3 separate regions of the Homo sapiens genome follow, and regions 1 and 3 are each linked to region 2. The links come from fine-mapping of genetic effects on plasma protein levels. A gene starts in region 2. Each other region holds a variant in brackets. All regions are shown on one strand. Distances are between the middles of the regions.

Region 1 (8,187 bases), 340 kb before region 2:
TCACTTCCCACAAGTTGAACCCCAAGAGTAACAGTCAAGTACAAATCCTATACGTATGGTTTTGTTAGCAGAGCACGCATCTAGTAAAAATCCAATGGACAAACTCATGCTTAAGCATGAATGTAGAGGGCAAATTTGGCAATGCGTGTGAGAAAGGCTTGAAATTTTGCTTGCAATTTGATCCAGAATTCCCAGCTTTCAAAATAATTTTAAGGAAGTATGCAAACTTTGTGTGCAAGAACATTTGATGTATAGATTGTCATGAGACGAAAAACAATTAATTAAATGTTTAATAACAAGATATGGTTAAGTAATTTGTAATACATCTACCTAATGTAATAAAATACCATTATGGAAAACATGTTGCTAAGAATGTACAAGAACAATAACATGGTAAATGGTTCATGATGTATTATGTCTATAAATAAAAGTCCATAGAAAAAAGGCAGAATAAATACATTCTAGAACATGATTATTTCAGGAGATAATTGGCTATTTTAATTTTTACACTTTTATTTATTTTTTATTTTCTAAATTTCAACTTTTGTTATGAAAGAAAAGTTTATTTTTTATTTTTTAATGTAAAAATTTGTTCTCAATCCTCAGAGTCCCAAAAGGAATAATTAAGAATCCCTAGAATCTATGCCAATAACTAGAAACTGGACTGAACAGGGAAGGTATTGAAGATTTCTTTCTACCCTACAGCTTTTCCCCCAACACAGGTTTTGTTTTAGGTATTACTGTCATGAAATACAATACATGATGCTCTTCAGCCAAAAGCATATTATTTATTCCAGAAGTTCCTTAAAACCCTAGGAACCCGAATATATTTTTACTTGTGAGCTGGGATGGATACTATAAAAAACAAACAAACAACAACAACCAAAAAAACCTTTTAAGATATGCTTGGCTTTTGTTCTTTCAACCTTGTACCCTAGAGTAACATTATCCAGTAGAACTTTCGGTATTGATGGAAATGTTCTATATTTGCACTGTACTTTATGGTAGTCACTAATACATCTGGCTAGCGAGACTGAGAAACAAAATTTCTCATTTTATTTAATTAAATGTCAATAGCCACATGTGACTGGTGGCTACTCATTGGGCAGTGTTTGGGAACAGTTATCTGGATGTTTCCTGTTCTGAACTCCACCCTGGACCTGTCCAGTATTTCCAAGCAATTCTCTACAAAACACTTATCCTCTCATTTATTCATTCACGTATTAACTACTATAACAATTTTACTAAGTATTGCATGCTAGTCTTGGTATTAAGATCTGTGTTACTGGACTCAGTCGTCAACAAGACAGCCACACTCCCTGTCCTCAGAGTTCACATAGTTTAGCAGAAATAAAGATGGTTTTCTTGCCTCAAATTGTATCTTCTGTGTTTTGTCTCACATACTACTGAGAAAGAAAAAGATAGATTCTGGTCCATGAAGTCATTTTTTGCTATGCTGAAACTGTATATTCACAAATATATTCAGTTCTGCCTCGGATCCCATCAAAGGTCCTTCTTTCTCCATTGGGTGCTTTGAGTCCTTCCAGGATCCCTCCCTAAGACTGAAGTGTAGGTGTTTTCCTACTGGGTTTCTCTTCCTGGGAAAACAGACACTAGTTAATTCTTCAGAGCTCAAAGCCTAATTCATCTGAGAAAATGGGAACTGGAAGCACTGTATAAATCAAGACTTTTCTCTCTGCCTCTGGGAAATGAAAGTGCTTTCTCTACTAGCTAAAGTTCACGGAATAAAACCTAATATGTCATCAAATTCAACTTTTATTGATCCTCTAGGATGTCTAAATTATTGAACTAGGTATTACGGGTCATCAAAGACCCAAAAGACTTGGTCCCTGTCTTCTACAAAACCCAAAATTGAATAGAACCCAAATAAAAGTTACCACATGACTTCACTTTCTTAAAAAACGTAATTCCACCAGTCTTCCTAAAGCATTTGAATGGAAAAAAAAAGCGATCAAAACTTGTGTACAGGCCCATGTTTGGTTCATCTTTCCATCTCAAACAAATGTAAAGGGAGGATCTCAACACAGTATTCAAAATTATATTCAGCCTGGTAACAAAGATAAAACTACAGTTGTTGTGTAAAGGAGATTAAAATTCAGTTGGAAACATGTAGTTCGTGTGCTACATACATGCAAAAGTATTAATGAAAAATCTCAGTGAACTAGAGTTCTTACCAACAGAGAGGCCCACCTATTAGTCTCTAAGGGTCCTTGAAATGTTACCCAAGTGGCTCAGGATTCTGCACTCCATTTTGAACAAAGGTCACAGTGGTGTTAGAAAGTCTGAGGGCAAACCTGCAATTCCCACTTACCAGTTTTGTAAGTGTGAGCAAATTATTGAGAGCCTCTAAGTTGCACTTTTCTTACCTATAAAATGAAGGCAGAATCCACCTTAGTTGAATAATGTAAAAATTAAAGATAATATATGAGCAGGGCCTAGCACTATGCTTGCTTGTAATAGTTATTCAATAAATGCTAGATGGATTAGAGGATCGTTTATTGAGGAGATATTTATTGCCAAAGTCAAACAAATAGGCAAATAGACAAACAATTTATATTATAGCTCAGAAGGTGGGTCTTCCCCAACACAAGGCAATGTAAGAAGCACCTACACTGTGTGAAGAACTAGATAGACCACAGGTGGCCTTCTCAATCATGATAGAGAACAAAGAAATGACTCTCTCCAGAAAGAAGACAATCTGCAATAAAATCTTAAATAGTCCCAATAACATTACAAGCAATTTGGACTTCTCTGTATGTCCAAATGCTCCTCTATATGTCCATGCTTTCATGATGTCTCTGAATATTTATCTTCCCTCTGGAGAAAAGACAACTCCAAATGACTTTATGCTGAGCTTGAAGCATCTGTGGTCAAATGGTGAACTGGCATCATTATTTCCATTTTACAGATAAACTTAAGAGAGTACTGAGAGATAAACCGAGAGTGTTGAAAGTTCAAGGGCCCTGCCACTATCTTACAGGAGCAAAACTAAAGAGAGAGTACCAAGAGATAAACTGAGAGGGTGCTGAGGGTCCAAGTGCCCTGCCAGTATTTCCCAGAAGTGAGGCTGGAAATGAAACGAAGTCTACACTGCTTTCTGCTAGGATGTGCTAGGTAAATGCTCTCCCTAACCTTAAATAGCATTTGTCTCTGTTATTAGCAGCTATTAGTGAAGACACTAACCTTAACCACATTTCCCTTGTCATTGTATTTGTTCATTTACCAAGAAATGATGTGATGGTATTATTATTATTATTATTATTATTATTATTATTATTATATTTTTTCTTTGCAACAAAGTTTTGCTCTTGTTGCCCAGGATGGAGTGCAATGGCGTGATCTCGGCTCACTGCAACTTCTGCCTCCTAGGTTCAAGTGATTCTCCTGCCTCAGCTTCCCAAGTAGCTGGGATTACAGGCACCTGCCACCACACCTGGCTAATTTTTGTATTTTTTTAGTAGAGACGGGATTTCACCATGTTGACCAGGCTGGTCTTGAACTCCAGACCTCAGGTGATCTACCCAAATTGGCCTCCCAAAGTGCTGGGATTACAGGCATAAGCCACCACACCAGCCGATGTGATGTTATTATTTCAGGCTCACATCAACGGTATTAGCACTGGATGTCACTGTTGTTCCATGCAAACAGAACACAAGTGTGCCTCTTCCCTCGTGAATTTCAGAAATGACCCAGTTACTTAGGGAACAGCTCATCATGTACTTTGGCAGAACCACACAGTACTCCCCACCCAGCCTGGCATTGGCATTGCTATTTTCAGATTCTAAATCTAATCTATTCCAAGAGCAAGAGTCCAGGGAAAAGGCCATTAAATGTCTGAGGCACAGAGTCTATACAACATCTGACACTGAAATTACTAGAAAGGTCTATTTGCGAGCAAAAATTTCTGCCCTTGCTATATATTTTATTTTTGAAAAAACCTTAATACTTTAAATGCAAATATGAATCGAATGAATTTCATCATTATCCCATGAAGAGTTCCAGAAGGATTTCTTTGGTGAATGAAACACAAATATTAACTATTGCTTCTTCTCCCACTCACTTCATAATCATGTAACAGCCAGTTATCAAGGCTACAAAAGGTCTGAGTCTGACCTTCTAACCTGCTCTTGGACATAAGCAAGCACAGCAGGCAATGTATTTCAAGGCAATTACAGGCATAACTCGAGTATTTATAGGATACAACATTGTAATAGAACTATCTTTTTGGTATTTCCGAGGTAACACTTAAATCCTGCAACAGTGGTGGCCCATCAGTGGTGGGAAAAGACCAGTTCCTCCTGAGGGTGGAAAATAATCTTGTAGTTCAAGTTAGTGAAGGATGGGCATTTCTTCTTCCATTATATTCAAAGTGGAATGAGTGTGCTGCAGCTTTTTTTTTTTTTTTTTTCATGATTTCCTCATGATAATGTTGCGGTTACTTTAGCAGGGGGTGGAAAACTGATAAGTGTAATTGCTGTAATCACAGGATGTATAGGATGTAAATATTTGCAGGGCAATTAAAAACTATTTGCCTCTTTAGCTTCTTAAAATAAGAGGTACATCTGAGCAGCAAACAAGTGGAGAGTTTAAGAAAACAAGCAGAAAAGATTTTTAAGTGGCAAGAATATGAGATGATTTATCGAGCATTCATTTTGTGGTTTGGTCAGA[T/G]ACGAACGTTGGGGGAAAAGAGCAAAATATTGTGGATCAGGAAAATTGTGTCATCAAATAACTAAAAATAAATCTCAGAAGAACACCCCAGGGTTATAAATGATCACAGTGTGTGGCATTGTCAATTATCCTCTCAAGCTGGCACATTGTTTAGGAGGATGTCTAACTGCCAAGTTGTTATTGTAACAAGCCAACGGGCTTGCCTCATTCATTAAATACATGGAGGATGGTAGTCAAAATAAACCATGCCAGTTGACCACCATCCAAAGTGGCAGTTTTTCTTTGAGAATAAGGTTTTCTTTTTCACTCTTGCCTGATTCATATGTAAATACTTCCTATTTCTCCTAATGTTTCAAGAAACATTTTGATTGTATTTGACTCATATCTGCTAAATTTCTGTACATATTATTATCTTTACTACCAGTAGGGATAGTGAAAAAAGTAAATTCTACATTGTGTTGATGAGAGAGTTTGTATAAGGTAGGAAAGAAGGGGGTTGAACAGCATACAGATACTTCTACAGCCAGGTTAACATTTACACACGCCAATTAAGTTGTACAAAAATAGTAATTTGTTATGTTCTATAATTGACCTTATTTTGCCCTCCATCATGCTGATTAAAAAAAAAAAAATCCCAAACAAACAACCCTAAAACCTGATGAACAGTAACTCTGTCTCTTGTGGTTTTAAAGGCTCTCAGGTTAAAACACTCTTTTTTTTTTTTTGAGACAGAGTCTCAACTGTGTCACCCAGGCTGGAGTGCAGTGGCACGATCTCAGCTCACTGCAACCTCCACTTCCCAGGTTCAAGCAATTCTCCTGCCTCAGCCTTCTGAGTAGCTGGGACTACAGGCATGCACCACCATGCCTGGGTAGTATTTTTTTTTTTTTGTATTTTTAGGAGAGATGGGGTTTCACCATGTTGGCCAGGCTGGTCTTGAATTCCTGACCTCGTGATTCGCCCACCTCGGCCTCCCAAAGTGCTGGGATTACAGGCGTGAGCCACCGTGCCCGGACAAAACACTCTTAAGGGTAAACAATCATTTTGGATTTCTTACCTCTTCAATGCTTTTAGGATGGTATCTAGGGACATGCAATCTCGTGAGAAGAAGTAAAAGACAGCTATGATCCACAATTTGTCCTCTGCCAGCCCTGCTGACTCTGACTGATGAATAAAAGGGAGGTCGTGGCATTGTTCTCTCTCCTTGCTGCATGTGTTTGCTGTAGTATCTGTGGATTCTAAAGCTAAGGTCTGTGCTGTCTGGGTAGACAGAGCTGAGTGACTGCTTCTATGAAAGTCAGCAAACTCCTCATGCTAGTGAGGCTCTGAACTTTGATTCTTTCTGGCAGCCTTGATTCTCTGAGACTTATTGCCATTTTCTTGGGGCTGTTGACCTTGCAGTGGTCTCCACACCTCGAGCACATGATAACCCCTTGGCAGTTATGCCTAATTTTATTTAGTTATTCTGTCTTTTCATTCTCGACTCACATAATTCTTCCCTCACATGGTCATGCTGGAATATCTGGGCCTTTTCCATATCAGGTGCAGACTGTAGACCAGGGGTTTTCTGTCCCAAGGCTACACATCTGGACCCTTTCTCTGCCTGTTACTGATCCAGCACTATGCGCCATGTTGCACGATGCAGGAAGCAGAGCAGAAGCTTCGCTGTTCTCTGATTTCCCCTTGCACAATACAGAATCCAGTTCAGAGGCTATCATATGCCTCTTCTCTCTAAACCTCACCCAAAGGACCTTGGGCAGCTTGCTCATCCTCACCTAAATCACCTGGTTTTTACAGCCCCTCATTTTCTAATCTCAGAAGTTGAAGAGTTTTCTATTTCTATTTTCTATCCCAAGGAAACACCATCTCTTTTATCTTTCCTCACAGAGTACCATAGCAAAGCTCTAAGCCTTAAATTCTAAGTTCGATCCTTGATGTAAAAAGGAAGCTTTAGGATTTAAAAAATCTATTTTTCTTAAAAAAAAAGTAAAATCATGACTTGGTAGATATTATCTTGCTCTGGATAAAAAAAAAATTGAATCAAATTTTTCAGACCGAAAATTGACTTCATTCTCTATCTTCTTACAAGTAATTACAGGCATTTGAGTCTCTGGATTAAGGATTACGAGGTAACAAAAAATGGAGAAAATCAGTTTGGTGTCTTAAAAATATATCATCTCACCTAAACTGCTTATTCAAAAACCCTCAACAGTCATCCAGTGCTTTTTGAATCTGTACAAAGCTACGTGATGCTAAAGGCCTCCACCCCTCCCAGGCCTAGGATTTCAGGTGTCCCTCTCACTTCTGTGTAAGAGAAAAAGAGATTTAATGACTCTAAGCTAAAAAACTCACAGCTAATGAAGAGAAATAGTCAAGAGGCAGATTTTGACTAATCTAGCAGAGTCTCATTTCAGTCAAAGTTAGATTCTGAAATTAGTACTTAAGGCAAACGCTGCATTTATAAAAGTTATTCTTGAAAATTCTTTAAGTTGCTCATAAAATAATTTATTTTTTACTCTATGAAAAGCTCCAAATATAGTATCTTTCAGTTAGTCTGATAACCAATTTTTACTCCAGAAATAGGGGAAATGCTGTATGAAAAAGATGTATCTTCAAACTCTGCAATCATATCCAGTGATGCTCACATTATAAGGGGCACATAAACAAGGGAATAGAAAGAGAGAAAGTAATTATAGGATAAATTTGCTGTTACTAAAGAGTTATAATATTCTCTTTCTTGGAATTCTAACATAAAATGATTCATAAAATGCCTGGGCACATTCAGGATTGGATGGATATATTTTCTAGTTGGTGGATTTCTATTGTTTCCACATGTATACTAATTAAAACAATTTCAAACTTAATTTCTTAAATAACATTTCAGTCTTGCAGAGCATGCTTTTTAACATTAAACTTTGTCTCCCTCTGCATGCTAATCTTCAAAAACACTTTCTAAATCAGTCCTTGTCTGATAAATATGTCTATTTTGTTTAGCTTTTGGACTCATGTTCTACAATAATTTTGATTTTTTTCTGAGCCACAAATTGGAAGCAAAGAAAGCATGAACCCACTGGGTTTTCTTTCCTTTTTGTAAGTTTATACAAAGATGAGGCAACATGTCTTTCAGTAAGTAGATAGTAACTTCTTAATGTTTGCAGAACCAGATGAACGAAATGATAACCTCTCTGTGGGTTAGAATGTCTGATTCCCTCTAGGAGATCTTAAAGAAAGCCAATTAGCATTAGCAGATGTGTGTGCAATGGAGAAGGTAAAAGAAAATGAGGGCAGTAGTAGCTTTTTGGGACTTGGATGGAAAAAAGATAAGATTTCTGGGGAAGGCAGATGTTGGGTTTAAGGCTTTCTGTAGAAGGTCATTAGAAAACTGTGAGATGAAGGGACAGTTACAAATTTAAGAAAGATGTGTCTTATAGGACTAATACAGATACCATATACCAGATATTAGGTAAACAATACTTAAGGACTGTAAGAAACAAGAAA
Region 2 (8,187 bases):
CTCTTTTGAATTTGTATTTTATCTGATTTCCATCGTCTAGCCTCTATTACTAGCTAATAAAAACCTACAATTTTCTTGGTATTTTCCACCTTTATAAATATGAAGAATTCTTTTTAACAGAAATCCCTTCCTAATTTCTCAGCTGGATAGGAAGAAGAGGCATCCCTCTGGTTGGTTTTGTATTCTTCCACACATCTCTCATCTGGAGATGAGAAGCAAGAAAGGCTGTCACTAGGGTCAATGTACTGAGGTCCGTTCCTGTAGAAAGGAAGGGATCCAATAACCAAAGCCCTTTAAAAGTTTGCTTCTTTCCCCACTTAAGCAGAAGGCTCTTCTTTCTTCTTTTTGGAGAAAAAGTTTCCTGTTTCCTTTCCTTTATTGTGCTTTATTGGACATGGCAGGCCTTAGAATTGGCCTTTCTGGCACTTCAGAAAACAAGCGCATGTAGAAAAAGAAAGTTTCTCCTGGGTGAGGAAGCTGAGACTTCCAGACAAAAGGAATGTAACAGCAGACATCCTGCCAGTTCCTCTTTCAGTGAAGAACCAACCAAAGCTTGTGTCCCACTGGTTGAGACCCTTGAAATTGAACCACTTCCAGAAACACAAAAACAACAAACGGTCTAGTACATCTGCGTTATTTAAGGAAATATTTGCACGATTGATCAGTCACTACTATCCTTTGCAGGCCTGAAATGCAGCATTTTGTGGTTTGGGTGCAGACTTTAGAATACTACAGAAAAAGTATAAATTGGGAAGTTTGCTTTCCCTTTTCCTCAGTATAAACAATATGAAATCTGGCAAGTACAAATGCAAAGAAAATTTAGATTTTATTCCTGTGGGTTTTCTTTAAAATACTGTATCCGTATCCTCATTCCAATCAATAGATTTCAGGTTAAACAAAACTTGAAATATGAAACTCACCTAGCAAGAGAAAAAAAGAGTGGAATGAGGAAGGATTTGTGATTTTTAATTAATAATTATTTTAAAACCAAAATAATTAGAACAAGTCTGCTTTGCATGCAGTAGTACTCAAGATACTGCAAATTATTTTGTTTGGTACAAAATCTGCATGTATTTGTTAACTGTATTTATGGGCACACATCCTGTTCCTGCCAATCACCAAGTACTTTGGAGTATTATTTTTGTGGATGATTTTCTTCCTTGTCCGAAAAATATTGACCATTTAGGTAGGTATTATTAATTTATTGGAAACTATTTTTGAAAGTAGTAATGTAAGATTCACTCTCATTCTGCCATGATCATTTGAGTTTATCAATGCAGAACACGTCTTTCTTTAAAGTTATTCTAGAGCTGATCAATATTGTCTTATATTTAGACACTGTCTTTTCTCTGATCATCTTTAAACATATCACACTTCCGTTCTTGTAGAACACACACATACGTACACACACACAAACCTCTAAGATCACAATCCCAAAATGTATGTCTACTTATAACATTTCATGATATTAAATGTTAAATTTTATTTCAAAAACTATCACAGCCTAAAGGGAAATATAATTTAAGCATTAAGATAGTACATTTCAGAAAATAAGCTAGTATTTTCATGTTACATTTTAGGTACCTATCATTTGTCATTCCAAGAGATCCTTGCGTTCTAGACTCTAGAATTAAATGGGGTAAAGGGTTATGCTTTTAAGAACTATAAGCTGAAATGATTTACTTCAGTTCAATATAGAATATTTGTCAGTCAAGATAACAATCAATGTGTACAAAAATTTACATAACAAGAGGAAAAATAGGCAGTGCAGCACCTTTAGAAAAATAATTAAAAGTTTCATTGCATTTACAGGTAAGTGCCACACTGAGAATTTACAATACAGTAATTTACTGCAATCACAGGGGAGTTCCATAAAGAAACAAAGCTCTTACACTCCAGGTTTTTGGAAGGTGTTATTGGAATGCTTAACTGAAACCACAGAACTTGTATATCCTTAGGATTGAGTTGATGAAGGTCATAAAAGGTTTTCATAGCATCTATTATATAAAAGGAGTTCACTGCATTTGGATAGCTGGTTTAGTGTCTCTGACAAGTGTGAAGCCTAGAAGAATTACTGGCTTGATGGTGATCTTTCTGTATCCGGCAAGACAGACCTTCTCCACAGTAACAACGCTGGAATATTTCTAGTCCATGAGAGCCTTTTCTCCTATGCTTGGTACACACTTGACCTTCTTTCAGGACAGGTTTACAGATCTTGGACCAGAAGTGTCTAGCACAACACAATCCTGAGGCACAGTCTGATGACCGGAGACAAACAGAACCTTCTTGTCCTACGAAGGAGAAGACAGTAGGAAAAAAGTACATAGTTACTGTTAAACCTGCATCGTTTCACTAAAATAATTCAAAAGACACTTCTGATGTGCTAAGAATGAGTCTTAACATCCTTACCTTTGGTGTGATACATTTTTGAAGACAAGGTGGTTCTTCTGGAATACCCATCCAAGGTGCTATGATCATTACCAAAGCTTTCAGTGATGGTTTCCTCAATTTCTCCTCGGAAATGATTTTGATCAGAAGACACACATATTCCTAAGGAAGCAGGAAATAGTGATTAACTTCAGGGTTGTAATGCATTACTGCTAACAGCTGTGACAGTGGCAGTCTGTTATGCCAGCATCAACTTGAGATACTTCATTGCAGTGACATCATTTTAAACACAAGCCAAACTTCCTCTTTACTGTTAATGCAAAACTCTCCAGATGGACAGAAGCACCAATGTGTATACTGTATACAGTCAGTCATAGGTAATATCCCCAGTATAGCCATTTAAAATACTTTCCCACCAACTGTGGTAGGGGCAAGTGAGATTTCTGCCCATTTTAATATTACCTTTGGGGTAAGAAAAAGAAACTCAGTCACTTTAAAAATGTTCTTAAAAATAACTTCTCTGCCCCTGGTGCTATATGGGTCCTACCAGACTAAGTTAAGCAAATGCAATTCCAGCTGCCTGGAACATTGCAATCTCACCGGCCAGTTACTTTACTGTGTAATTTCTATATTACAGAGATTTACTTAGTTCATCCTGGAGTACTGCTGGGTCCTAAGGAGGGTCGTCGCCCTGTTAGCTTATTTCTGGAGACCTCTTTAGCTGTCTAAATCCACCTTTTGAAAAATTAAAAGTTAGTGGATCTGTGGTTGGGGGGAGGAGTACTTATATTAAGGCAGCAGAGGGTAGAGGGAGGGGGAAGGATGGAGAAGTCAAGTTGTGAGGGTACCAAGATCTCTCTTAAAAATGGCCAATGCAGATAAATCAGTCCTCTGGCTGACAACAGTTTCAGCAAAAATCAGAAGGCGAGGCCAGTCTGGCAAAACTGTGAGAATCACAATAAGAAAAATGAAAAGGACAGCTGAACGCCAAAGCTGGTTTCTTTGATATCTGTATGATCCCATCGTCCTCCTCATCATCCCCCTTCTCAATTGACCTCAAGGTTCTCCCCAGACAAATTTTTATGGAAGAGTCCACTACGAGGTGAACCGTTGTATTGAATCATTGAGGGACACGGAGGAAGATAAGGACCTCAGAGACCTCCCAACTTCTCTCTTCTTCCCGATTAAACACTTGCAATGAAGATACTTCAGCGGAATCCTGCATGCTGAACACCCATTTGCAGGTGGCGCCGCAGTGTTCTCAGGGCGGAGATTTCTCCCCCCACCCCCCCCAACCCCCCGCCCCCGCCCAATTCATAGACGCTCAAAGGCTGGACAGTTTTAGTGTGAAAGGGAGCTTTCAGGACTCACCATTTTTGCAGTAATTCCCGGGGCAGCACATAGCGTGACGCATGCAGCGTTTTCGGCGCTTCCTGCAGGCGAGACAGATTTGCACGCCTGCGTCCCCTCCGCGGGTGGGACTAGCGCAGTACTCATCAGTGCCGCACTCCTCGTCCTCTGCGCACGGGTACGGCTGTGGGAAGGGTTCGGGGAGAGGGTGAGGCACCCAGACGTCCAGGTACCCGCCCTCTTGGACCCGGGCGCTGATCACAGTCCTTATCTGTCCACCTCTCCAAAACCTGTTACTGCCCACTGCTCCCAAATGCAGGGTTACCAAATGCTCCCTGAACCGCACACATTCAGCACGTTCTACTCCCTCGTCTCCAGATAGGACCCTTTCAAGGTCAGAGCATCCTCTGAGTGCCCGACCCCTCTCACCTGGTAGTTGTCAATGGTCTGGTACTTATTCCCGCCCGGGTACAGGATTCCCGGCGCGGCGCTGACTGCAGAGCCTGGGTGCCCCGCAGCGCCGCCCAGCGGTGGGGGCAGGTTCTTGATAGCGTTGGAATTGAGAACCGAGTTCAAGGTGGCGCTCACTCCCAGCAGAGGGTGGCCGCCGAGAGCCGCCGCTACCATCGCGACAAAGACCCGGGTAGCTCCCGCTGCGCCCAGAGCCATCATCTCAGAAGGACTCAAGAGGGAGAAAGAAAGAGAAAATGACCGTCACTTTGCAAGCCTGGGTCCCCACGAAACCGTGCCGGTTCGGCTGCAGAGTCAGGGTCCGGGAGCCCCCTGCGGTCCCAGAGTCCTGACTGCAGGGAGCACAGAGCTCTGCGCCGCCACCGCCACCGCGGCTGCCTTTATACCGCGGGCCCGGAGCATTCCGGCCCCTTGGGAGGGAGACAACAAAGCCGGGATGGGATTTCAAAGCGCTGGGAGGGGCTGGGAGGGGGTGTGTTTGTGTACATGAAGGGGGGCCTTTGACACTCTTCACCCCGCCCCTCCCTTGCTTAGTCGCTCGGCTGGCCCGGCTCACCTTCGGGGTGAAGGCTACCAGCGAGCGTTATAGCAGACGACTTTAATAAATGCAGGCGGCAGCAGGAACTCTGGGAACTTGGGTGCCCTTGCCTGGCAGTAAGGGTTGAATTATCCGGATCTGAAATACTTTACAGAGCCGAGGGGTGATAGGCTCTGCAAAAGCACTTTTTGCCCCTCTCCTTTATGCCAATACTCGCTGACTGTGCACACAAGTCATATTCAGTATTAAATACAAACCGGTCTGTAATTCAATGGCTCTAGCAAGACGCCTCTGAGAGGGCCAGGTGGCGGGTGCAAGTTGCTCATTAACCCTTTAGAGTCGCAGTTTGCAGATCTGAGTTAGATCCCCGGCTTTGAGGTCCTTCAGTTGCCCTCCTCCCCCACCTCCCCCCGCCACTGCGAGAAAAATGTGCAAAGAGAAGGAAATTTGCACATCAAACGAGGGTAAGAAGGAAGAAGAGCTAATTCTCTTTTGATGGGAAGTTTAGAGAGGGAGGCGAGAGACTGGCGTTTAGAAATTAGATCAGGGGTGGAGGGAAGAGGGAAATGACCATCCGATAATCAAACCATTTAATGTTGTTCTTTGAATCAGGGCAATCGCGGCGGTAGATGAACTTGATTAGGCAGACGCGTGAGATCAAAGTGGCCGGGACCAAAGCGGACAGGGTCCAACGTGCCAGGTCAGTCGCCTTTCCCCGGTTCTCCCTTCTCAGTGGTGGGCTAATGTGGAGAAATAAGAAACCCTTAGGGCTTAGCGCCTGACTTCCTCATTAGTATATCACATCGCAACGCTTCCGAATGCAGGGTTTGCTCCCAAGTCTTACCTTGCACGGGACCACGCAATACCCTTTCTAGGGAGAAAAGAAACAACCTTGAGGAGAAGAAGAGCTGAAAGTGAATTAGAAAGTGAATTTGACGTCATTGAAATTGGTGTGTGGATATAATAAAGTAAGGCTGGTGTATAAGAATGATGTCATGCTTATAAATGGGAAATGATCTATTTAATTCAACAAAAACTTATTGGAAGCCTAGAGCCCTGGCATTGGGCTGCCCTCTGGGTTGTTACCTTATTTTTATTTTTTAAATTTTTTGGTGAGATGGGTGGTGGGGGGAGGGGCACAGTGAATACAAATATTTATGAGACACAGCTCTCATTTTAAATAATAAAGTTCTCTTTATTCTAATTACAGTAATAATAAAAGATGTAGTAACAATAAAATTATAGCAATAAATATAAAAGCATACATAATTCTTTTAAAAACAGGTTGATATTATAAGTGTCAGAAAATAAGCAACTGTTTTGTGAGTTTGGAAAAGGGAGAGATGATTGAATAATCACTATTGAATTAAAAAAGAGTAAGATATATTTATTTTGTCTTCCTCTAAGCTGTATAGATTTAGGCTGTCTATAATGACTCCACATGCTGACCTACTATAGTCAGAACTGGGGCCACCACCAAGTAAAGCCAGTGACAATCTTAAAGTAAAAAAATCCTAAAGTTTACTGGGAGAAGGAGTAATTAAAACACAATTTACTATGGTCTGTGTTCTAGTTCCTTCAGTTTCAAAGGTAATATTAAGAAGATCATCTAAACAATTCTTGAATGGTACCCTAGTTATATTAGTGTCCTTCCCATCCCAAATTCCATCTGTCCAGGAAATTATCCTGTCAGGAATCAATGCGTTAAGCACCTTCAGTGTACTAGGAAATCTGCAAGCTGTGTTAAGTTTGAATGACTTTGAAACGTAGAGAAAAATCCGCCTGCCAATCAGAAGGTTGAAAATGTTTCTTTTTAGTCCTATTAACCTGTTTAAATATTTTGAATCTAGAAATATATTTGTGCCACACTAAAGGCCAATCTCTTGCCTTTTTTTCTGAAGAGATAGTATATGATTAATACATTTAATGAACTTGGTTCATTAAAAGCTTGGCTTCACAAAAAAAATCCATTGCCTGGGGCAAAAGAAGAGAAAGTGGAACAATTTAATCAACAAAAGGAAAATTCTGTTATAACAAAGAAGCTTGTTGCATAAATTCAACCTTGATCTCTGAACACATATCATTTGTCTATTATGTTTCAATATTCACTGAGTCTGGACAGAATCTGTGGTATTGAGCTAGGAGAGCTAAACCAAGCATAGAGTTTCAAGAATGGGCTAGCTTCTACCTCCTTCCTCAGCTTTCACATTGCTCCTGAAGTTGTCATGAGTTTAAAACTAATAATGAGTTGGTCAATATCTGAGTTCCTACTTTGTGCTAAGCATTATACATGATATTGTGTGATAAAAGATGAGTTCACATATAATCTACCTTCAAATCATTTAGTGGGCAGAGGAGAGGTAACCTCACAAATTATTCAGGGGAGAAATTACATGGGTGGTCCTCAGAGAGGGCTAAGTACATAGCAAATCAAACCTTTGTTCCAAATGAGGAAATTTATTTTTTCAGTACTTTTTCTCCATTTGAAAATCCTTTCCAGGATGTGGTTTGTTCATTGGCAACAAGAGTGCAAGGTAGATAAAGAGGTATAGTAAAACTCATTGTTCCATCAGCAGCCAGTTAATATTCGGTGAGTATCCATTATTGGGAGCATATCTCACAATATGAAAGGCAGGCTTCTTGTCCTCAGCTTTCAGTCTGTGACTAGTTGGGGAAATACAACATACTTACATGGGGCTGGGGGTAAAAATTTTTCCAACATCGATTATATTTTGGCAGATACTAGGTCATGGAGAGCAAGAAAAATGTGCAGGAACTGTGACCAACATGTCTTAGGAAGGAGAGAGGGTTCTGGTGATTGTCTGAGTCTCTCTTACAGCTGGGTGACAGAGGAGGTGGGAGCCAGAGTAGATGAATTTAGTTTATTAAACTGAGTTTATTTAGTCCTGTAGGGAACCCTGCCTCCTATTCAGTCTGGTATAAATATGATCATAATTAATGTAACAAATTTAATATTTTGTATTATATTTTTGAATAGGTGAAATATGCTTATCAGCGTGGAATTGAACCTCATAACTCGGGAACAGCATGCTAACACATGTCTTCTTTATATTTTAAGTGCTGGATGCCATGCATAGAATATTTCTCAACCTTTTCATCCATGAGGGAGACAGACAAATATACTCCAAAACACTCCATGCTATTCACCAACTATTTTTCCATCTCTATTATTTGTGACTGCTGATTTTTTTTATTTTATATATTTTTATATATTTTTTGAGACAGGATCTCATTCTGTCGCTCAGGCTGGAGCACAGTGGTGCAATCGTGGTTAACTGCAGCCTTGACCTCCCAGGCTCAAGCGGTTCTTCCACCTCACCCCCAAGTAGCTGGGACTACAGCTGCATGCCACCACACCTGGCTAATTTTTAATTTTTTTGTAGAAACAGGGTCTCACTATGTTGCTAGCCAGAGCTGGT
Region 3 (8,187 bases), 140 kb before region 2:
GAGAAAAATAAAGCAGGGAGCTAGGCAAGGAGATGGGGTTTGGAGGCATTACAACTTTCAATAGGGTTGTCAGCAAAGGCCTTATTGTGAAGATGCCTTTTCAGTAAAGACCTGAAGAAGGTGAGTCAGAAAGGAGGTGGAGTTTGAGGGTAATAGCATTCCACGGAGCAGAAAAAGCAAGTGCAGGAACAGCAAGAAGCAGAGTGAGAGAGGTGGGGAGAATTCAAGATGATGTTAGAGAGATGACAGAGTCTAGGTTAGGGAGGGCCTGAGTCCTTGTAGACTCTGAGTACGGTGCTGAGCAGGGAAGAGACAGGCTCTGGCTTAGGGTTTAGAAGGAACACAGGCTACTGCGATGAGGATTGTCTGAAGGGGAACAAAGGCCAAGGTGGGGAGACCACTTAGAACTCTACTGCTCTACTTTAGGTGAAATGTTAGAACTGGGTGAGCCGAAAACATGCTCAGCATCTGTGAGGAGGGGGCACAGAGGGAGCAAGGATGGATCCAGGGTTTTTAGTCTGATCAACTGAAAGTCTGGAACAGCCATTACTTAAAATAAGGAAGTCTAAGGGAAGAAGAGATTTAGGGGAGAATATCACGAAACTTGGTTTTAGGATGGGTGCATTCGAGATGCAGATTGCACATCCAAGCCAAGATGCCAAGTAAGCAGTTGGATGTTTAAATGTGGATTTGAAAGGAGAGGTAGAGGCTGGAAATATAATTTTGGTAGTCATTCTGTTACAGATGTTGTTTGAAGCCGTGAGACTGAGTGAGATCATGGAGGAAGTGAATGTAAATAGAAAAGGGAAGAAGTCTGAAGACGGAGCCCTGAGACACTCCATTGTAAACTGGAAGATGAGGAAGAGCCAGCAAAGGAGACTGAGAAGGGGCAGCCAGTGAAGATGGAGGTAACCAGGAGAGTGTGGTGTCTGAAAGCCAAGCAGCAAAGGGTTTCCATGAGGAAGGAGAAATTAACAAGGTCAAATGCTGCATATGGGTTAAGCAAAACTAGAATACCTTCTAAATAGAGTATGTTCTAAAATTATTACCAGTACTTGAAATCACCTACAAATTGATCTCCTTTATGTCTATGCCTTCATCTCCTAATATCCCCTCCCTTCCTCAGTATAGCCTCTCCCCCATTTTCCTCTCCAGCTTTCATCTGCTACCTCACTCTCTCCCTCGTTCACTATCCCTTCTCTAGACCAGCCCTTTGTTTTTCCAGCATGTCAATATATTGTCCAGCCCTTTGTTTTTCCAGCATGTCAATATATTGTCCTATCTGTTCTTCCCGCTGCCTAAATGTTCCTTTTACTTCATGATTACTTCCTATCATTACAGTTTTTTTTCATGACCACTCAGTCTACAGTACCAATTTTATTAATGTTACTTCCACCTCCTTCCACTCACTCTTTATCCCACCACTTTGTTCTTTCCCTTTATGTAATTTTCAGCATCACAACATTTTCAGTTCATTGTTTTCCATCCCACATAAAAACAAGGATCTAGACTGTCTTGTTCTGTGCACTGTGTCGGGCTAGAACAAGGAGTGCTATAACATTCATTCAATGAATATTTACTGAATAAGCTAATTAATCTATATTTCAAAATTTTAACAAAGTTGTATGTAAAGCATACCCAAACACTGGTAAATCATTCCAAATTGAGATGTACAGAGGAAGAAATCTGAGAGGAATTTTTATTTGATGATGCAGGAAAGTATTTCTTTCAAGTGTTTTTCAATTTACATGTTAATTGAAAAACATTTCCCAATCCATTTGAGCATTTGGCAATCCCTCTGAGACACAGTTCATCTACCTTATTTCCACAGCGCCTCAAATACAACCTTGCATTTGCCTAAGATGGTGCTGTATTATAACTTCATGTTACCTTTCATAGTTCCAGGAATCTGTAAAAGTAATAGTATCATCTTTATTCAGGTCTAGTTTATAGTGGACACACCTTGACTGTTTATTGAAAAGATGTTTAAATAAATGAATATTGAAATATTTAATTAAGAGTAGCTGCTGAGGAACAGAAAACCAAACACCGCATGTTCTCACTTACAAGTGGGAACTTAACGATGAGAACACATGGACACATCGGGGGCAACAACACACACGGGGGCCTGTGGCGGGTGGGAGGGAGAACACCAGGAAGAACAGCCAATGGGTGCCGGGCTTAATACCTGGTGATGGGTTGATCTGTGCAGCAAACTACCATGGCACACGTTTCCCTATGTAACAAACTTGCACATCCTGCACAGGTACCCTGGAACTTAAAAGAAAAGTTGGTCAAAAAAAAAAAAAGTAGCTACTGAACAGTCAAGTAAAATTTTCTTATTCATTCATTTCCTACCGTCCTTCTCAAGAGAGTTGTCTTCTAAGAGGTCCAAATGAACACAACTTATCACTGGAAGCTCTTTTTAAAAAATCGCTCTAATGAAATTCAGGGGATGAGTAGAAATGGGGTAGGGGCAGGCTTTGTGTTTGATAATTTGGTGTGCTCTTTCATCTTCCCTCTGCAGTCTTACGCTCATTGTTTGTTGCTGCTAAAGCAGTAAATGTTGTTTGTCTTCATTGCAAAACCAAGGATAGAAAACTTTGAAGTGTTTTCTGTTGCTTAATGTCACCTACTGTTCCTGTCAGCAAACTGAAATAAACCTGATGGACTGAGGTGTCTGGTCTAATTCCTTTATTGACACATAGTCCTGTCTTCAAACACCAGTGTAAATGAATAAGTACTGAGATAGTAATGTGTCAGTAATAGGCTGCCAGATAAATGCCATTGTTTACGTACTGATCCCTGCTTCCTAAGGCCCAAACAGCTCAAAAATCTTACAAATTAGCACCTCGCTGAGATCAAAGAATTGTCTTTTCTTTCTGCAATTACCTACTTGGAGAGCGGTGCAAGCAGATGAGACGAGTTTAAGCTGTCTCTCTCTAGCCCAAATCTTTCTTTTAAAGAGAACAAATGGTGGAATTATACACTGTTTCAGGAAAAGGCAGTTAAGAATAAGAGATTTTACCTTATTTTGCCATGTAAGAACAAGGGGATTTTGTATTTTAATTTTTATGTTAATCCACCAATCAATCCCCATTATAATTATTTTACTGAAAATTCAGTGGAAAGAGCCATGTTCATCCTTAACAACCATCTTTTGGGATCAGATTTAGCTGCAAATTACAAAAATAAAAATAGCTTTGAATTCAGTGACACCATAGTACTCACACTTCAAGCAGAAAGTATGAGAAAAATAAATGCTTTCTGAAGGAGTAAAAATTTAGACAACACATCTTCTAATTTCATTTTTGGCATATCTTAAACAGAAAAGTGCACCATTAGTCTCTCTTAATTTAAAAAAAAAAAGGCATAATTTTATGACTTTCCTTGCTTACCAAGTTCTTTGCCCTGAAGCACATTCCAGTTCCATTAGCCTGTGTCCAAAATGGCATTGTTTTATTTGAAGATATTGAGAAATGAGAGGATAGAAGGATGTAACTTGAGTTTATACTATTTAGTAATTGTCTTTCATATTAGTCATACAATCTACAAACAAGAAACCTAGTGTTCAAAACTTATTATGGCTTAGGGTAATGTTGGCTTCTTTATAAGAAAGACAAAATCCTTTCTTGGTGGCAGGCTTTATCTTTTATGCAAATGAATAAAGTCTGCTTTCAAATTCTAGTGTTAGACTTTGTGTTAGTCAAAGCCTTGACTCCTATGGATAAGTGAGTGGTTTAAAGAAATAAAAATTGACCTGAAAAGTAATTATCTGCAATAACTTGGAATCCTTTTTCCCTGTATATGTTTTACTTCACTTATTCACATCCATGTTTTTTAAAGAGAGTATTAAATGCCTTATGCCAAAGAGTTCACGTAAATAAATGTGAACTTAAGGCAAATTTTAATATAATTTGTCTCATTTTTCTAAAACTGTTTCTTACATTAAACATTCTTGTATCTTTGGAATCAGCCAGGGCTAGAGTAAGAGCCCCTTCTGGGATGCTGTGACCCCCAAGTTTGAAGACTGCTGATAACCCCAATCTACGAAGACTAGCTATGGAACTTCCTACACTGAGACAACTCCAGTGGAACTCTGATAATTATCCTAAAATAAGGAGGCTTCTTCAGTAGCCCTCGAAATATGTTCAAATACATGATTACATTTATGTCCTTAATATTGCTATTAGTTTCTGATGTTAATGTAAAAGTTGGGGAAAAAGTGGAAAAGTTAAAGCAGTGCAGGTTAATTCAATGCCAGAGTAACTTCTCAGAGGGTGTATATTCAGTGTGAACAATTTTCAACAGAGAAATGTCAACTTCTGGCCACAA[C/T]GGCAACCAGTAAAATGACTATTTTTACTGTCTTATCTATTAATGAAGAGGAGATTGCATAATATAGATGAAGGAGCATAGTATTTGCAGGTGGAACGCCTAGCAGGGCTTGAGTCTCAACTCTGCTGCTTTTACTCTAATTGACCGAGACAAGTCATTTAAACTAATAGAGCTTCAATTTTCTCATATCTAATGTAACATAACAATTCACAGCCTTTTACTTTGTAGTTATCGTGAAGATCTAATCGCAGTGAAATATATTTATATATCTGTCTGCTGATAGAACTTTTGTCATAGAGGCTAGTCCATTTTATGTCAACGGGGCTTAAATAAGATCTGTGCCAGCAACTGAATTACACTAATGAGTGAGTAATTACAAAAGAAGCCTGCTTTATCAATCTATATAAAGAAGAAAGTTACTGAGTATGGAGGGGAGATTCTCCTTTCATATTGGCACTCATTCTTACTTTCCCTGAAATAGAGATTATAGTAGTCTACCAGCAATTTTCAAACTTCAATTCTGGCCTGGAAATTGGACAGAAGGGGTCCAAGGACAATGAACCGAAAGTGCCAGTGAATGTCTCAGTGCAGACTTGGAGTCATAGTGGTTAATTTGCAAAATTAACTCCCTATTCAGACTTCAGGCAGTTACATGTCAACCAACATCAACTTCGACCCTTAATCTTCAGCCTCAACCTAGTAATAATATCTCTGAGGTGAATAAGCTATGAAGTGGACATTTCCACCTTCCTTTATTTTATTTTATTTATTTTTTTGAGATGGAGTCTTGCTGTGTTCCCCAGGATGGAGTGCAGTGGCACAATCTGGGCTCACTGTAACCTCTGCCTCCTGGGTACAAGAGATTCTCCTGCCTCAGCCTCCCGAGTAGCTGGGACTAGAGGTGTGTGCCACCACGCCTGGCTAATTTTTTGTATTTTTAGTAGAGACAGTGTTTCACAGTGTTAGCCAGGCTTGTCTCTATCTCCTGACCTCTTGATCTGCCCGCCTCGGCCTCCCAAAGTGCTGGGATTACAGGCATGAGCCACCACACCTGGCCCCACCTTGCTTTTTTATTAAGACTGCTAATAATAAGTTACTGTGCTTTCTTATTATATCCCCTTTTGGTCTCTGTTAACAAAAAATACAGTTGTATGTAAATTTTAGTATATGACAATGTTCATCTCACAATACGTACAGTGATAATAGTGGAAGAGGAAGGAAGGTAAAACTTTTGCTGTGATTCCATAAATGAGCAACGTGGGACACCCTTGTATGAGTCCAGTGCTTACACAAGCGCCTGAACACAGAGCTGCCAGGCTGGGTGCATGTGTCAAACTCTGCCAAAGCCCTGAAAGCACCAGTTGTGAAAAGCTGGAAAAAGGTCTTGGCAACCAAAATTCATGTTGATTTTTGTCACCTTTTTGAGCAAATATTCTTTGCAGATCAATAGTCCATTGGTTTAATTTTACAAATGTTTTCTTTTGAATTTTCTTTCCTCCCAATGTAGTTTCAAAAAACTAGTCCATTTAAAAAATGATCCTTTTTATGGAGTGAAAGAATACAATACTCAGAGTGGTTCCATGCTCAAGTTCCAAGATGCAAATTTTTTTATGCAAGTCTCATATTCAATTAATAGCCCCGAGATTATGAAAGATCCATTACCTTCTCAATTGCAGATTCAGGTATTGCCAACACAACACAAAGCAGCATTAAAATTCATGTCATTCTATAATGGTATTTTCCAAAATGTACTTTTTCCAAACACTTTCCAAAATGTACTTTTTCAGGTTGCTTTAAAAATTTTAATATAAAATTTAACAATTAAAAATGTATTTTATAGTCAGAATAGCAGGAACTCTTTGTAAGTACTGAGGGATTATCACTAAATAAAATGTATAGCAAGTGTGCTATAGCAGTATTCTTCTGTAAGAGATATCCAGAGTTATTGACCTGAGAGAAGGAGGAGAAATGCATGTATGAATGCAAAGAATCCTGTTTTTCTTCAGCAGGGTACTGAAAACTAATTCTTCTTCATGAGGGAAGGCAAACAACCCTCTCTCTGGTCTCTTTTCTACTATGATTCATTTTTTGGTCTAAGTTTTTTCCCAAACCAAGAGTAGACTCCCTCCTGAGTCTCTATTGACTTACCTGGCTGCCAACAAAGGAAGGCTACTAGTTTCTTGGAATTCATATAATTATATTTCTGTGGGCACTCATAAAGAGCCATCAGCTCTGTCCTTGCACACCCCACTTCTAGACTTGCCTCCAGCCGGGGGTGGTAATAACTGAAAAGAAAACATTTCTTGACCTACTCCAGTACCTCATAAATCGAAATGTATCCCTTCAACTAACACTCAAATTCCATCTTATTAATATAACTGCCAAACTAAATTAAGTCCAATTTTACTTTTTTGTTTACCTCCTATACAATGGAATCATATTTTTTCATATTAAAATTTTAGCAAATAATATGTCACCTACCATTTGCACCTCCACACGATGCTAGAGAATTAAGTTGGGAAAGTCAGACCTCCAATGCTCTTGATACAAATAAGTCCTGACCAAAGATTTAACCAGAATGTTCCCTCAGTGCTGCTAAATAAATATTTATTTATGTATGTATTTATGTAATACTTCTCCTTTGAAAAGAGAACTTGAGGTAGTCTCCAGAAATATACACATACCAGTGGAAGAAAAACAGACCAATCTGTGGAAATTAAAGCAAGAAGAAAGATAAGCTGGAAGAAAATATATATTGAAGCAGTAATGTTGGTGCCTGCCATACTGGTCTTAGCGTTCTGATAGGTTCCTGCATGTTGGTGGTAATTTTGAAACAGACTATCCTAATAATCCAGGCAAATATAGTTTGAAAGCACAATTAGTCATGAGACTACCCATGTTGCTGGCCAAAATCACACTGCTGTGAGAGACAGCACAGTTGTTCCTGTTCCTGAGATGCATGAGGAATTTTTCTCATGGTTCCTTATGAAGTAGACACTGAGTGATTGGTAGCTATTAGTGGGAAGCAGGATATCTGGGAAGAAGAGGGAAAAATGACAGCATTGCACAAATTTGAGGGAATGGATTCTTTGCCTTTATCATATTTAATGTAAGCTCCTAGTGATTAATGAGTTTGAAATGCCTGGTCATCTACATATGTGTGCCTGATTCCAGGAGAGATGGAGTCTGACAGTTTGTATAGCAGCTAAGTTCATGGGAATGGAGTCTGCTGCCTAAGGCCCTGAGCAGCCTTTATTGCAAATTCTGTAGAGTAACCCGCTGTGTAGCAAACAGTCAGGATCACTTATTATTATTTACAGACTTTCCAAAGCTCTCATCAAATAGGAGCCCCACACTGTCAATTTCTGGAAATATCAATGCTTAATGCTTCCCCATTCACAAAGTATGGGGAAGGTGTTGTCAATCTGGGGATAGAGGGGAGACTTGTGCCACGTTTTAGAGGATGGCACTTTGGAACTTAGGGATACAGAAGTCTAATGTGAGGACAGCCATTTGGCGGTCACCTGTCTTATTCACAAGAGAGGAATTAACTTCATAGCATCCCTATTGTTTGAAAAGGGGACTTACTGAGTGCCATCTATGTGCAAGCTAATAGGTAAACAGTAATATGTTTTCCAAAAGCAGATGGAAATTTTGAGAGTCCCAAAGCTTATATAATTAAGGGCAAAGAGAAGGTTTAAGAAATTTATAAATATAAAACTATGTATAAGACTGCGCATGTAGGCCATGCAGAGGAGGTAAAGTGCAAGCTTTGGTAACTTCACAGAAAATCTATCTATGATGGTGTTCTCCTATAATCCTCAGAGTAACCAATGATCTGAGTGAAACTCT

Direction of the effects. Alleles are on the strand shown, and positions count from the first base shown. The strength of an association depends on the size of the effect and on how common the allele is.
As copies of T replace G in region 1, the plasma level of the protein whose gene starts at base 4,564 in region 2 goes down (weak association).
For the plasma level of the protein whose gene starts at base 4,564 in region 2, allele C in region 3 goes with a higher level than allele T (weak association).

The links. PIP is the chance, under the fine-mapping model, that this variant and not a neighbour inherited with it causes the effect. Protein levels are from antibody-based Olink assays in UK Biobank. Linkage for the fine-mapping came from a reference panel and not from the study's own genotypes, which makes the PIPs less certain.
Region 1: its variant is fine-mapped to the plasma level of the DKK1 protein (UK Biobank, PIP above 0.99).
Region 3: its variant is fine-mapped to the plasma level of the DKK1 protein (UK Biobank, PIP above 0.99).

The regions. Positions count from the first base shown.
Region 1 is chr10:52,649,236-52,657,422 of GRCh38, reverse strand. The region is part of intron 1 of LOC105378305 (a long non-coding RNA gene); the gene reads left to right. Among named protein-coding and RNA genes, the nearest start is that of MBL2, 120 kb to the left of the region's middle. The variant T/G (reference allele first, on the strand shown) is at 4,690.
Region 2 is chr10:52,310,658-52,318,844 of GRCh38, reverse strand. DKK1 (dickkopf Wnt signaling pathway inhibitor 1) reads right to left here and starts at 4,564. Exons shown (of 4, transcript NM_012242.4): 1 at 4,168-4,564; 2 at 3,760-3,922; 3 at 2,410-2,550; 4 at 1,188-2,291. The coding sequence starts at 4,410. The coding sequence ends at 2,038. It overlaps PRKG1-AS1 (PRKG1 antisense RNA 1), which reads left to right and starts at 4,717. Exons shown (of 6, transcript NR_038277.1): 1 at 4,717-5,211; 2 at 5,360-5,447. RefSeq lists an enhancer at 1-581.
Region 3 is chr10:52,447,307-52,455,493 of GRCh38, reverse strand. LNCAROD (lncRNA activating regulator of DKK1) reads left to right here. Exons shown (of 4, transcript NR_120641.1): 3 at 745-908; 4 at 3,977-4,617. Among named protein-coding and RNA genes, the nearest start is that of LNCAROD, 19 kb to the left of the region's middle. RefSeq lists an enhancer at 2,301-3,169. The variant C/T (reference allele first, on the strand shown) is at 4,336.